Homo sapiens: one gene and its partners. The protein of the gene in region 3 binds, or shares a complex with, the protein of the main gene of each other region. Each region holds a gene or a part of one and is shown on either strand. Other genes may lie near its edges.

Region 1 (3,752 bases), on a different chromosome or scaffold from region 3:
GTTCAAGAGCTCTTTGCAGTATTCCAGGGAAGACCTAAGTTACAAGCACTGAGAAGGGAGCAGAGTGGATGATTCAGAAGATAATATTATGCAGAATACATAGAATTTGGGAATGTTTTTGGATATGAAGAACAAAGAAAAGGATAATGTCCAAGATGACTGAGTTTTCAGGCTGATTGTGGGGTGAATGATGGTATTAATTGAAAAAATTATACAAGGGGTGGGATAATTTGTAAAGGAAAATGGTAAGGTCATTTTGGGACATCATGAGTTTAAGATGATGGTGTACCATCTAGGTGGGGCCCACAGTGGAAATGCAGGGCTGGAGTTTATGAGAAAAACGAAGTTAGGGGCAATGAAAGCATTGGGATAGGATGCCCAGATAGCATAGCACAGTGACAGGGGCCTCCTTCTCACTTAACACTCTTTCCTCAGCAAGAGATACTTGGAAAAAAATCCTTGAATTAATTCCAGGAGGATGAGTTTAACCACAGATTATAAACTTACTTCAGGTATGATCATCCACACTACTAAAAATATGTCACAGTGTGCTACAACTTATTTCAGATTTCCTTGTAAAGATGGAATCACACCAGAGCAACATTTTTCAAGATAAATTAGTTTTAAAGTTTCTGTTTGCATTCAAATATAGTTACTGCCAAGAAAGCAATAGAGGTATAACTGTATTTATTCTCTGAGACCCCTTTGTGTTTGAGCTGTAGTTGGCCTGCTAGCCTTTGCAGATATAGTAGAAAGCATTTTCTTTTCTTTTTTTTTTTTTGAGACAGAGTCTCGCTTTGTTGCCCAGGCTGGAGTGCATTGGCGCGATCTTGGTTCACTGCAAGCTCTGCCTCCCAGGTTCATGCCATTCTCCTGCCTCAGCCTCCCGAGTAGCTGGGACTACAGGCGCCTGCCACCACACCCGGCTAATTTTTTGTATTTTTTTCTTTTTTTTTTTTTTTTAGTAGAGACAGGGTTTCACTGTGTTAGCCAGGATGGTCTCGATCTCCTATAAAGCATTTTATTTAAATTGAATTCAATAAACACTTTCACATATCCTTTCAGTATGGAATTACAGTGAATGAGCTTATATTAGTTAGTCTGCTTTGCATTGAATTGCTTTATTGCTATAAAGGAATACCTGAGACTGGGTAGTTTATAAAGAAAAGAGTTTTATTTGGCTCATGATTCTGCAAGAGTATCCAAGAAGCATGGTGCCAGTATCTGCTCCTGGTGAGACCTCAGGAATTGTCTGCTCATGGCAGAAGGCAAAAGGGGAGCAGGCATGTCACATGGCGAGAGAGGGAGCAAGAGAGAGGGGAGGAGGGAGGTGCCAGACTCTTTAACAACCAGACCTCACATGAACTAGAAGAGCGAAAACTCATTACCATAAGGACTGCACTGAGCCATTCACGAGGGATCCAGCCCCATGACCCAGCACCTCCCATCAGGCCCCACCTCCGACATTGGGGATCATACGTCAACATCAGATTTGGGGGGACAAATATCCAAACTCTTATCAGAAATTTAAACAAAACAAAAAACTAATGGATACCACATTAATAATCTTGATGTCCTCTCAGGATTGGTAAGATGGGATACTACCCAGTGTGATTTTTAAGATCTGATTTAATATAAGTTTTATGTTAGTTTCATAAGACTTTTTTAAAGCAGCCTTTATAAGGATGCATTTATAAGGATGTGAAATGTTGTATCTTGATTTCCAGGCAATGCTTATAATCAAGAAGAACGTGTTGTTTGTGCTGGCTATGACAATGGGGATATCAAACTATTTGATCTCAGAAATATGGCATTACGGTGGGAGACAAACATCAAAAATGGGGTAAAGTACATTCTGAGGCTTTTTGGTTTCTCTGAGCATGTTTCCATTCACCTCTGAACTATTACAAAAGGAAAACACCTCTAGTAACTCATCTGAGTCAACCCCTCTGCCAACGGTTCTTAACTTTTTGAGGCCAAATCCGTTTGAGAATCTAATGAAAATCCTGGATCCTCTCTTCAGAAAATGAGCTCACACCCACATGTGGTTTGCACAGCGTTGGGGGAGTCACCAGCCCCTTCAGCCTGTCTGCAGACCCCTGTGGGCCATGTAGTAAGATTTCAAAATAAGCAAGTAAAAGGTCTTTTTATGCCAATATCAGAAAGCCTGAAACAGTAGTCACCTCCCCAGCTCAGATTTTTGGTTCCTTAGTTGTGCACCTTTAGCAAAGAATGTGGTTTCCTCCTGTTTTCTACTGTTAGCCTTTACTTAACTGTTAAATAATGTAAAAAGTTAAATAATGATTCCCCAAAGGCATTCACTGAGCATGGGAACCCAAGATTGTTTTGTTGATCTTACTAATGGAAAAAAAAAATGGGTTTTTTGTTTGTTTGTTTGTTTGTTTGTTTTGAGATGGAGTCTTGCTCTGTCGCCCAGGCTGGAGTGCAGTGGCGCGATGTTGGCTCACTGCAAGCTCTGCCTCCCAGGTTCATGCCATTCTCCTGCCTCAGCCTCCCGAGTAACTGGGACTACAGGCGCCTGTCACCATGCCCGGCTAATTTTTCATATTTTTTAGTAGAGACGGGGTTTCATCGTGTTAGCCAGGATGGTCTCAATCTCCTGACCTCATGATCTGCCTGCCTTGGCCTCCCAAAGTGCTGGGATTACAGGCGTGAGCCACTGTGCCTGGCCAAAAAAAAAAAAAATGTTTTTTTTTTGAGACAGAGTCTCACTCTGTCGCCCAGGATGGAGTGCAGTGGCATGATCTTAGCTCACTGCAACCTCTGCCTCCCGGGTTCAAGCAATTCTCCTGCCTCAGCCTCCCAAGTAGCTGGGACTACAGGCGCACGCCACCACGCCTGGCTAATTTTTGTATTTTTAGTAGAGACAGGGTTTCACCATGTAGGTCAGGCTGGTCTTGATCTCCTGACTTCGTGATCCACCTGCCTTGGCCTCCCAAAGTGCTGGGATTACAGGCATAAGCCACCGCGCCTGGCTGGAAAAAAATTTTTATGGGAAAAGTTAAAAGATAAATGATTGTTGGAGTGCTTTCACATTATCTGACCATTTTAAAGCTGTTTTACTTAGTATAAAAGAGCCTCCTGAGTAATACTGGTGAGACTACCAATAATAAGTATTCTCTGTTTTCAGGTGTGTAGCTTGGAGTTTGACAGAAAAGACATAAGTATGAATAAGTTAGTAGCCACATCTCTGGAAGGAAAGTTCCATGTTTTTGACATGAGAACACAGCATCCAACCAAAGGTTTTGCCTCTGTTTCAGAAAAGGTAAATATGAGGGAAATGTCTTTCTATGAAGAAGAATGATAGCTTGGTTTAGACTGATAAGTAGAATTAGTCACCAAGGTTTCTTCCAGGTCTTTATGTGAAGGGAGCTATTTTTGATATATTCCTGTGAGATCTTGACAAGTTTTTCTGTGCAAAGAGTACTTCCCCAAAGTTTATCAACTTTAGACTTCTTGATTATAATAAAGATCTCAGGTAGGAATCTTATTTTGTAGTTTAGGAGCAATTAGAAGAAACCTAGCTGATATTAGGAATTTGATCAACAAAACCCAGCCTGGTGTTTCCTAATAAGTATATAATATTTGTGCTAATACCTGGTTATATATTTTTCAAAATAAACTATATGTACATGATGTCATTTCATTACACTTTGTTTTATATTCCAGTTTGCTATATTAAATGAAATTATTTGAATCACTGAGTACTGTGATTATAGTAAATGTTCAAA
Region 2 (3,752 bases), on a different chromosome or scaffold from region 3:
GTGTTGCTCCATCACTGACCAGCTTGGTTAATTTGTCACTTTGGGTCTCTGGGTTTTCTGTGGTTTGGGGTTCGGTTTTGAGTTCCCTCCTACTTGGCAAGGCAGTTTTGAGGACCAGACAGGAAACATTTGCTGCCTTTAGCTATTCAGCATTTAGTGAGCCCTTCTGTGTCTCAGGGCCTGGTAACCAACAGGTGATCACTAAATGCTGAATAAATGACCAAACACCAGCCTCTTCCTCTTGCTGACTGCACTGTTAGGAGCCCGCAGGAGGATGCAGGTGAGTGGTGAACCTGTTATGGAGTCAGCCATGATCAGCTCCAAGTTAAGTAAGGACTAGGCTGATGCAAGCCTGTGGTCAAATCTAGTGAGAGGAGGCACAGCAATATAATCATGGTATATTTATACTTGCTCTTTATACTTACTCTTATAGTCCATGTGTCCCCAAAGGCACAGGAACATTTGGAGGAAGTCCTGAGTCCGGTTAGGGTCAGATGCGCCCTAGAGGGCATTTGACGTGAACTTTAATGACTGGGAACTTCTAGGAAGGAGAATGGCATTCCTGGCAGATGGAATAGACTCAAAAGCATTGAGTCATAAAAAAGCTTGGGGGTGTCCAGGGCAGGGCTGGTAGTCTTGTGTGGCTAATCAAGGAACAAGGGGTTGGAAAAAGATAGGGCTGGAAAAGGAGGCTGGGCAGGCCCCACGGAGCTTATACTTGCCATGAAAGGATTTTGTTTGATTCTTACAGGTTAGGGGAACCTCTAAAAATTCCTCTGTGTTTAGAAGCTCCTCAGGCTTTGAGGAGGGGTCTCCATACCTCAGGATCCCATGTTGAGTTGATGAGTGGGATGCAGGGGGATGAGGCTTCTGTAGTCACCTTAGAAAGCAGCACTGACTCTAAGTCTTCTCTTATGCAGGGGGGACAAGATATCCTGTCCATGATGGGCCAGCTAATGAAGCCAAAGAAGACAGAAATCACAGGTAGGAGAACCAGTGTGCCCTGTGAGCAAGGGGCAGGGCGGAGGGCCCCACATTCTGAGATGCTCTTGCGGCTCTGTGAGCACAGTCGCCCTGAGGAAATGCCTCAGAACAGTTCTTTCTTCCTCATAGCTTAGAGCTTGACTCTAGCCTAAGTTTCTGGCGGCATTTAGGCAGCCATATAGCACACTGTGTGCTATCTGCCCCACTGCAGTCACAGTTTCTGGCCCCTATGAGGCCCCAGAAATAGGGATTTGTGTCGCCCAGCTCTGCTGGAGCACAGGCTCTGGAGCCTTGGGGCTGTCAGCCCCCTCCCTAGTAGAGCACAGGGCAGCTCCACAGACCAGCTCCACATACTGCCCTGCCCAGTTTGTGGGCACTTCCCAGAGCTCCACAGGGGACACTGCTGCTGCTCCCCTGTGAACCTTTATTTAACCTGCTGCTCTTCCCAGCTTTCCTGTTGCTGTTTTTTTTCTAATTCCACCTACAGTTTCGTCACCTTAAGATGTTAGTTAAACATTAAAGCAAATATTGTCTTTAAAGTTTAAGCCAGGGCAGCAATCTGAGACCTTTCTGTTCGAGTTGTCAGAAGCAGTTTCTTTCTTTTCACACGGTTTTCGGTGTGCATCCTCTTTGGACAATCCCCGCCTCTTGCCTTTGGTGGAAGACGCTGCCTCAGATCTTCCAGTTTTCTATTTGTGAGCTGCTCCCTCCTGATGATAACACAGGAGCTGGTTTGGAAAATGAGCACTGAGACCTTAGCTGGGTTATGTAACTTTTGAGAGACTCATCCCTCTAGGAGCTCTGAGATTGGGCCTTTCTTCAGAGCCTTTCATTCCTCAAAGGTTTCTGCTCAGGATTCTAAAAGCACCCACTTCCTTAGTCCAGGCACTTGATTGAAAGTTAATTAACCTAAGCATTGTTGTATGGGACCAAAAGAAAGGGTCATTTACTGAGTATAGAACAGGTAAATTTGCATGTGAAAACTCATTTCACCCAGGGCTCCCAAACTCCAATGTCTCCCAGATCAGACAGAGCTAGATTGGGTATGTGGGAAGTGATAAGGCATGGTAGGGAGTGTGACAGCAGTGAGCGTGTGCTGTGAAGGGATTCCCATGCAGAACACCTGTGCAACCTTTTTACATTTAACCAAACTCATCTTTTGGGGGAGGCTGCCAATTTTGTGACCTTTTAGGTGTGATTATCACTGTGTTCAGATGACGACACTGAAACCTGGAGTGGGGACACACCCTGTCTGGGATCACATAGCTAGTAGGAAAACTAGGCTCCTAGCATGGGTTTGGATTGAATTCAGGTGGAGGAGAAAAGGCGATAGTCTCCCCCAGCCCTGTGCTGACCTTGCCTGCCCATCCTTGCATCTCCTAGACAAACTTCGAGGGGAGATTAATAAGGTGGTGAACAAGTACATCGACCAGGGCATTGCTGAGCTGGTCCCGGGTGTGCTGTTTGTTGATGAGGTCCACATGCTGGACATTGAGTGCTTCACCTACCTGCACCGCGCCCTGGAGTCTTCTATCGCTCCCATCGTCATCTTTGCATCCAACCGAGGCAACTGTGTCATCAGGTAGGATGGCTGCCTGCCAGCCACAAGGCTTTTTTAACTTCCATCTGGGCTCATTTGTTCCTCAGGATCTCTCCAAACCCCATGAGGTGGGACAGGGATGAGGGGAGGTCATGTTGTTTTTGAGGGAAAATGTGCCAAGTGGCTTGCCTCTGGCCTCATTTCCCTAGTCACCAAAGGCAGCAGCTGTCCTGTCACTCATGAGGAGGGTCTCCCACGTGATCTTTTGGGTGTGATACTACAATTTGGTCGTTCAATTGGAGTGTACAAAGGTGAGATCAGACAGGGCTAGCCTTTGATGACATTATACACATGAACGTCTTCAGTCTTCATCTGCGCTCTGAGAGGTAGGCATTATTGGCGTCATTTTTCAAATAAGGAAACTGGAATCATAACTTGTCCCTCATCGTAAAGACAGGATAAGAACCCAGCTCCTTCTGATAACAAAACCAGCATTTTCTTTCTTTTTTTTTTTGGGGACAGAGTCTCACTGTGTCGCCCAGGCTGGAGTGCAGTGGCGCGATCTCGGCTCACTGCAAGCTCCACCTCCCGGGTTCACACCATTCTCCTGCCTCAGCCTCCCGAGTAGCTGGGACTACAGTTGCCCACCACCACGCCTGGCTAATTTTTTTGTATTTTTAGTAGAGACAGGGTTTCACCGTGTTAGCCAAGATGGTCTTGATCTCCTGACCTCGTGATCTGCCCGCCTCAGCCTCCCAAAGTGCTGGGATTACAGGCATGAACCACCACGCCCGGCCCCAGCATTTTCTTTCTATCCCAGACCTCTGAACCACACTGGTGTCTTTCCATCCTCCCGCTCCACTCTTTCCCATCCCTTTGGCCTGCCTTTGGGAAGGGCAGATGTTGACCCCTGGAAGACAAGTGTTCATACGGTGCTCATCCTGCCAAGATTGGCCCAAAGCTGGGCCAGGAACTTTCCTGCGGTTGCTTTTTCTCCTAAGCACTCTCCACGCTCGTGGTCCTGGAGAACACCCCATCTTCCCATCTCTCAAGCCCAGTGTCAGTATTCCCAGTACCTGGTAGTTTTATTGCTCTTTTGGTTTTCTGTGATCTTGTTTAAACATTAGTGCCTGGTCTCTGCAGTGCTGGGGGCACAAAGGTGGGTGATGAGGGGCCTGTTTTCAAGCCTGCAATAGAGTAGTGTGGGGACAAAGTCCCTGAGGCTGCA
Region 3 (3,752 bases):
GAAATACACATTAGCACACACTTAGAATTGTTAAAATGCTAAATGAAATCTGCTACTCGAGAAGTTCTATATTATTTTGCTTAAATGATGTACCATATGCAATAATTAGTTTCTGTGAAAAATAGGGCAGGAAGCATAAAAGTTTCTTTTTCCTAGTGTTTCACCTATAAATTCTTAGGTCTTTTTGATTAACTAATACTATTCATTTTTTAAAACCAGTTTTGGATCTTGTGATTTTTCTTGGTCATGATTCTCTTTCTATTTTTTGTATGATGTTATTTCAGTTCTGTTGCATTTTCAATTTTGTTATTTTTGTAAGGTCCTCACATCTTTTATAGAATCAAGTATGATAAATGTTCACTCATGCATATAGATATATTCGTGTGCATATGTATAAATCCTTTATTTTTAAAAATTACAATAATACATGCTCATTGTAAAATATTCTGAGTATAGGAGTAGAAAATAAGTGTGTATTATGTGGTTTCAATTTCTGGTCTTTAGAGATAAATGTTCTCTGAATTTCTTACAACTTTATTATTATTGATACTATATTTATATTGCATATGGCCAATATCTTTCTTGCAAAGATAAAAAAATTATCTTCTATATTCTACTTATGTCTGAATAACCTCAATATATAGAAGCAGCATAGGAACTGTTTTTTGTTAATTTATTTCAAAACATTTTTTTGTTTTTGAACTTAGAATTCTAGTTTTAAAAATACTTTATTCAAGATCTTAGTATTTACCCATGGAAACTAACTGGAAATTTAAATAATGTAAAATTCTAGTATGTTTGTTTGATCTTGTTAATTTTCTTCCTTGCTAGTAAGCCTGATACTGTGATTGCAAATGGAGAAGATACGACATCTTCTGAAGAGGAAAAGGAAGATCGTAACACAAATGTGAATGCGATGCATCAAGTAACAGACTCTCATACTCCTTGTCATAAGGATGTTGCAAGTTCAGAACCATTCAGTGGTCAAGTGAATAGTCAGTTGAACTGTTCAGTGAATGGTTCCAGTTCTTACCACAGTGATGATGATGATGATGATGATGATGACGACGACGACGACAACATTGACGACGATGATGGTGATAACGACCATGAGGCTTTAGGGGTTGGAGATAATTCTATACCAACAATATATTTTTCACATACTGTTGAGCCTAAGAGGGTTTGTATACTTTTAACTTTACTAATTTTGCATATAATTTGAACATTAAGCATTATGATATTTTTTAGAAGAGCAATATTAACAATCATTATCATTGTGGATAGTGCCAGACAGGAAAATCATCTTTTGCCTCTTGTTCTGACCAATTTAAGAAGAAAAAGGGAAAAAAAATTTAGTTAGCTGGTATTGGTCCATTGTTCTCTGAAACAATGCATTGTTTGGGGTCTGGAAGGGGATCAGATTTGAGTGGCAACTACTGTAACTTCACCTGTCCTTCATTCAGAGAGTTTTCTTAAGAATCCTGGAGTTAATTATATTGTGGACATTTTGGTGTGCTTAGGATGTTGAAAGTGACTGCATTAGTTAAATTTTTAATTATGCCAGGTTGTTTTCTATGGACATAAAATGAATACTTCATAGGCACAAAGGGAAAATGTAGGAGGAAGTAAAAATTAGTTTCTTTTCTGACAAAGTAAATATAAACATCTGTGGATAATCATGACTTAGAATTTTGGCATTTTAGAGCTGGGGGTGACTGGAGATTTTCTAATACAGAGTTTTAAAGCTTTTCTCTAGTATGAAAAGCCTTTTGTTCCCTCCATACTTACTGTAGAATCCCAGTATTTAAAATAGATCAAAGCAGCTTGGCTCTGATTGAAGGAAGGATAGGCTGCCTTAAGTCCATCTTTGCCCTCTCTCTGCTCCATGTACTGCTCTAAGGGGACACTGGGAATTCGTCTAATTCGTCTTTCTCAGGGAAATTTAAGGCCTAGAAGACATAGATCTGGTTGGTAACAAAACAGGAACTCTTTCGCCTCTGAGTGCCCTTTCTACACAATATCCCGATTGCCTGTATCAGTTAAGGGTCTGTGGTATCATTCTTAAGTGTGTGTGATTATTATTTAGTGAAATATGTTTAAAACATATTTGATATTTCTTAGCTTCCTAAAGTTATTCCTGCTCCTATATGAAGTGAAATAATTGTTTGTGTTTTTATATTCTAATATGTCAGACTGAAGGGGTCTTCCCCTGATTCTTCGGGAAAAGTTGACTGAGATGATTAGCCAGAAAAAAAGGTCGCTTTTTAATCTTTTGCCAGGCTTTTACTTTTTTCCTGTTTTCATTTAGATAAAACAGAAAGAACAAATATTATTTGCAGGAACGTTACAGGTAATAGTGGTCATTATTGTGGAAAGTATGCTCTAAGTGCTGACTAGGGATAGAAAAATAACATGTTAACCCCATGTGAACCCTGAACAGGCTTGGTTTTTATTTTTTTACTCCTTCAATTTCTAAAAATTAGAGATGTTTTAAAAATTCTAAATAGGCATTATTTAATAGTACTTTTATGACTTAAAGGTTGTATTCTTACTGAATTTTTGTTTATACTCTTTCTTTTGAAATACATAATTCAAGCCAAACACTTATATCAAAGGAATGGGGTGATGGGAAGTTTATAAGAAATCTAGCATTTAGTTCAAATGTATTTTGCTTTCTCTACAATAATAAAGACACTGAAGACTAGGATTTGTTAATAAAGAAGATTTTCTTTAGATGTCATAGATCTATGAGATAAGGACTTTTTAAAAAATTCCATCTGATAATGCACATCATTTCAGCATCAGAAAATTTCAGCTGCCTCTCTTACTATTATTTTTTTAGTTATAGAGTTTATTTGTTTTGGTTTCACTTTGATTTAATTTGTCAAAAGATTCTTAATTTCTTGCTCTGAAATTTTAGGTCCGAATAAATACTGGAAAGAATACCACTTTAAAATTCAGTGAAAAGAAAGAAGAAGCCAAACGTAAACGAAAGAACAGCACTGGCAGTGGCCACTCTGCCCAGGAGCTGCCGACCATCAGGACGCCTGCAGACATTTACAGGTGGGAGGCGCTCACAGCTGCAGGGCAGTCTGCTGGGCTTGCCTCTCTTTCTGCCACTGAACCTTTACTGGAGAAAGTTGACTGTAACACAGAAGACCCTCACTGAAAAGTGAAGTGTTCTGAGGAGTTAACTTAGGATCTGATAGGCTGACCGGCTGTAGCTTCCCAGTCCAGAGCAGTGGGAATGGAGGATTTTTTTTTTTTTTCACTTTCTCCTCTTCACCAGTGCTTTTGAAACATTTCCAAATGGTCTAGTCAGAAAATCTTGTATCTTCAGAAAGCATTTTTGTTTCCAGTGGGCTAGGTCCCTACGTTTCTACCACAGCCGTAACATGCTTGGCATGCAGTTTACCTTTTCAGAGTAGAAATTATACTGTTGCAGGTTTTTTTTTTTTTTCCTTTTTTTTGGAATTGTTTGTTGAGAAAACTATCACTTGAAAATACCTACTGTTTTTATGACCCTTATTTATAAATCAGTGAAAATTGCTAAATGTATACGTGGGTCTAAAACTTTATGTAGAATTTTGGCAAACCATGCTATTGCCACCTAGGACATGCTTAAAAATAACATGCTGTGTTTTTGTTCTCACTCATAGGTGGGAATTGAACAATGAGAACACTTGGACACAGGGTGGGGAACACCACACACCGGGGTCTGTCATGGGGTGGGGGGAGGGGGGAAGGATAGC

What was found.
Region 1: URI1 (region 3) and DNAAF10 share a complex: the UniProt entries of both Homo sapiens proteins name them as parts of the PAQosome complex.
Region 2: URI1 (region 3) and RUVBL1 share a complex: the UniProt entries of both Homo sapiens proteins name them as parts of the PAQosome complex.

What each region holds. Positions count from the first base shown.
Region 1 is NC_000002.12:68,136,833-68,140,584, reverse strand, and holds part of DNAAF10 (dynein axonemal assembly factor 10), read left to right. Parts: intron 1-1,727; coding exon 1,728-1,843; intron 1,844-3,151; coding exon 3,152-3,286; intron 3,287-3,752. UniProt on the Homo sapiens protein: Key assembly factor specifically required for the stability of axonemal dynein heavy chains in cytoplasm.
Region 2 is NC_000003.12:128,096,114-128,099,865, reverse strand, and holds part of RUVBL1 (ruvB-like 1), read left to right. Parts: intron 1-920; coding exon 921-984; intron 985-2,367; coding exon 2,368-2,566; intron 2,567-3,752. UniProt on the Homo sapiens protein: Possesses single-stranded DNA-stimulated ATPase and ATP-dependent DNA helicase (3' to 5') activity; hexamerization is thought to be critical for ATP hydrolysis and adjacent subunits in the ring-like structure contribute to the ATPase activity.
Region 3 is NC_000019.10:30,008,174-30,011,925, forward strand, and holds part of URI1 (unconventional prefoldin RPB5 interactor 1), read left to right. Parts: intron 1-831; coding exon 832-1,180; intron 1,181-2,920; coding exon 2,921-3,063; intron 3,064-3,752. UniProt on the Homo sapiens protein: Involved in gene transcription regulation. Acts as a transcriptional repressor in concert with the corepressor UXT to regulate androgen receptor (AR) transcription.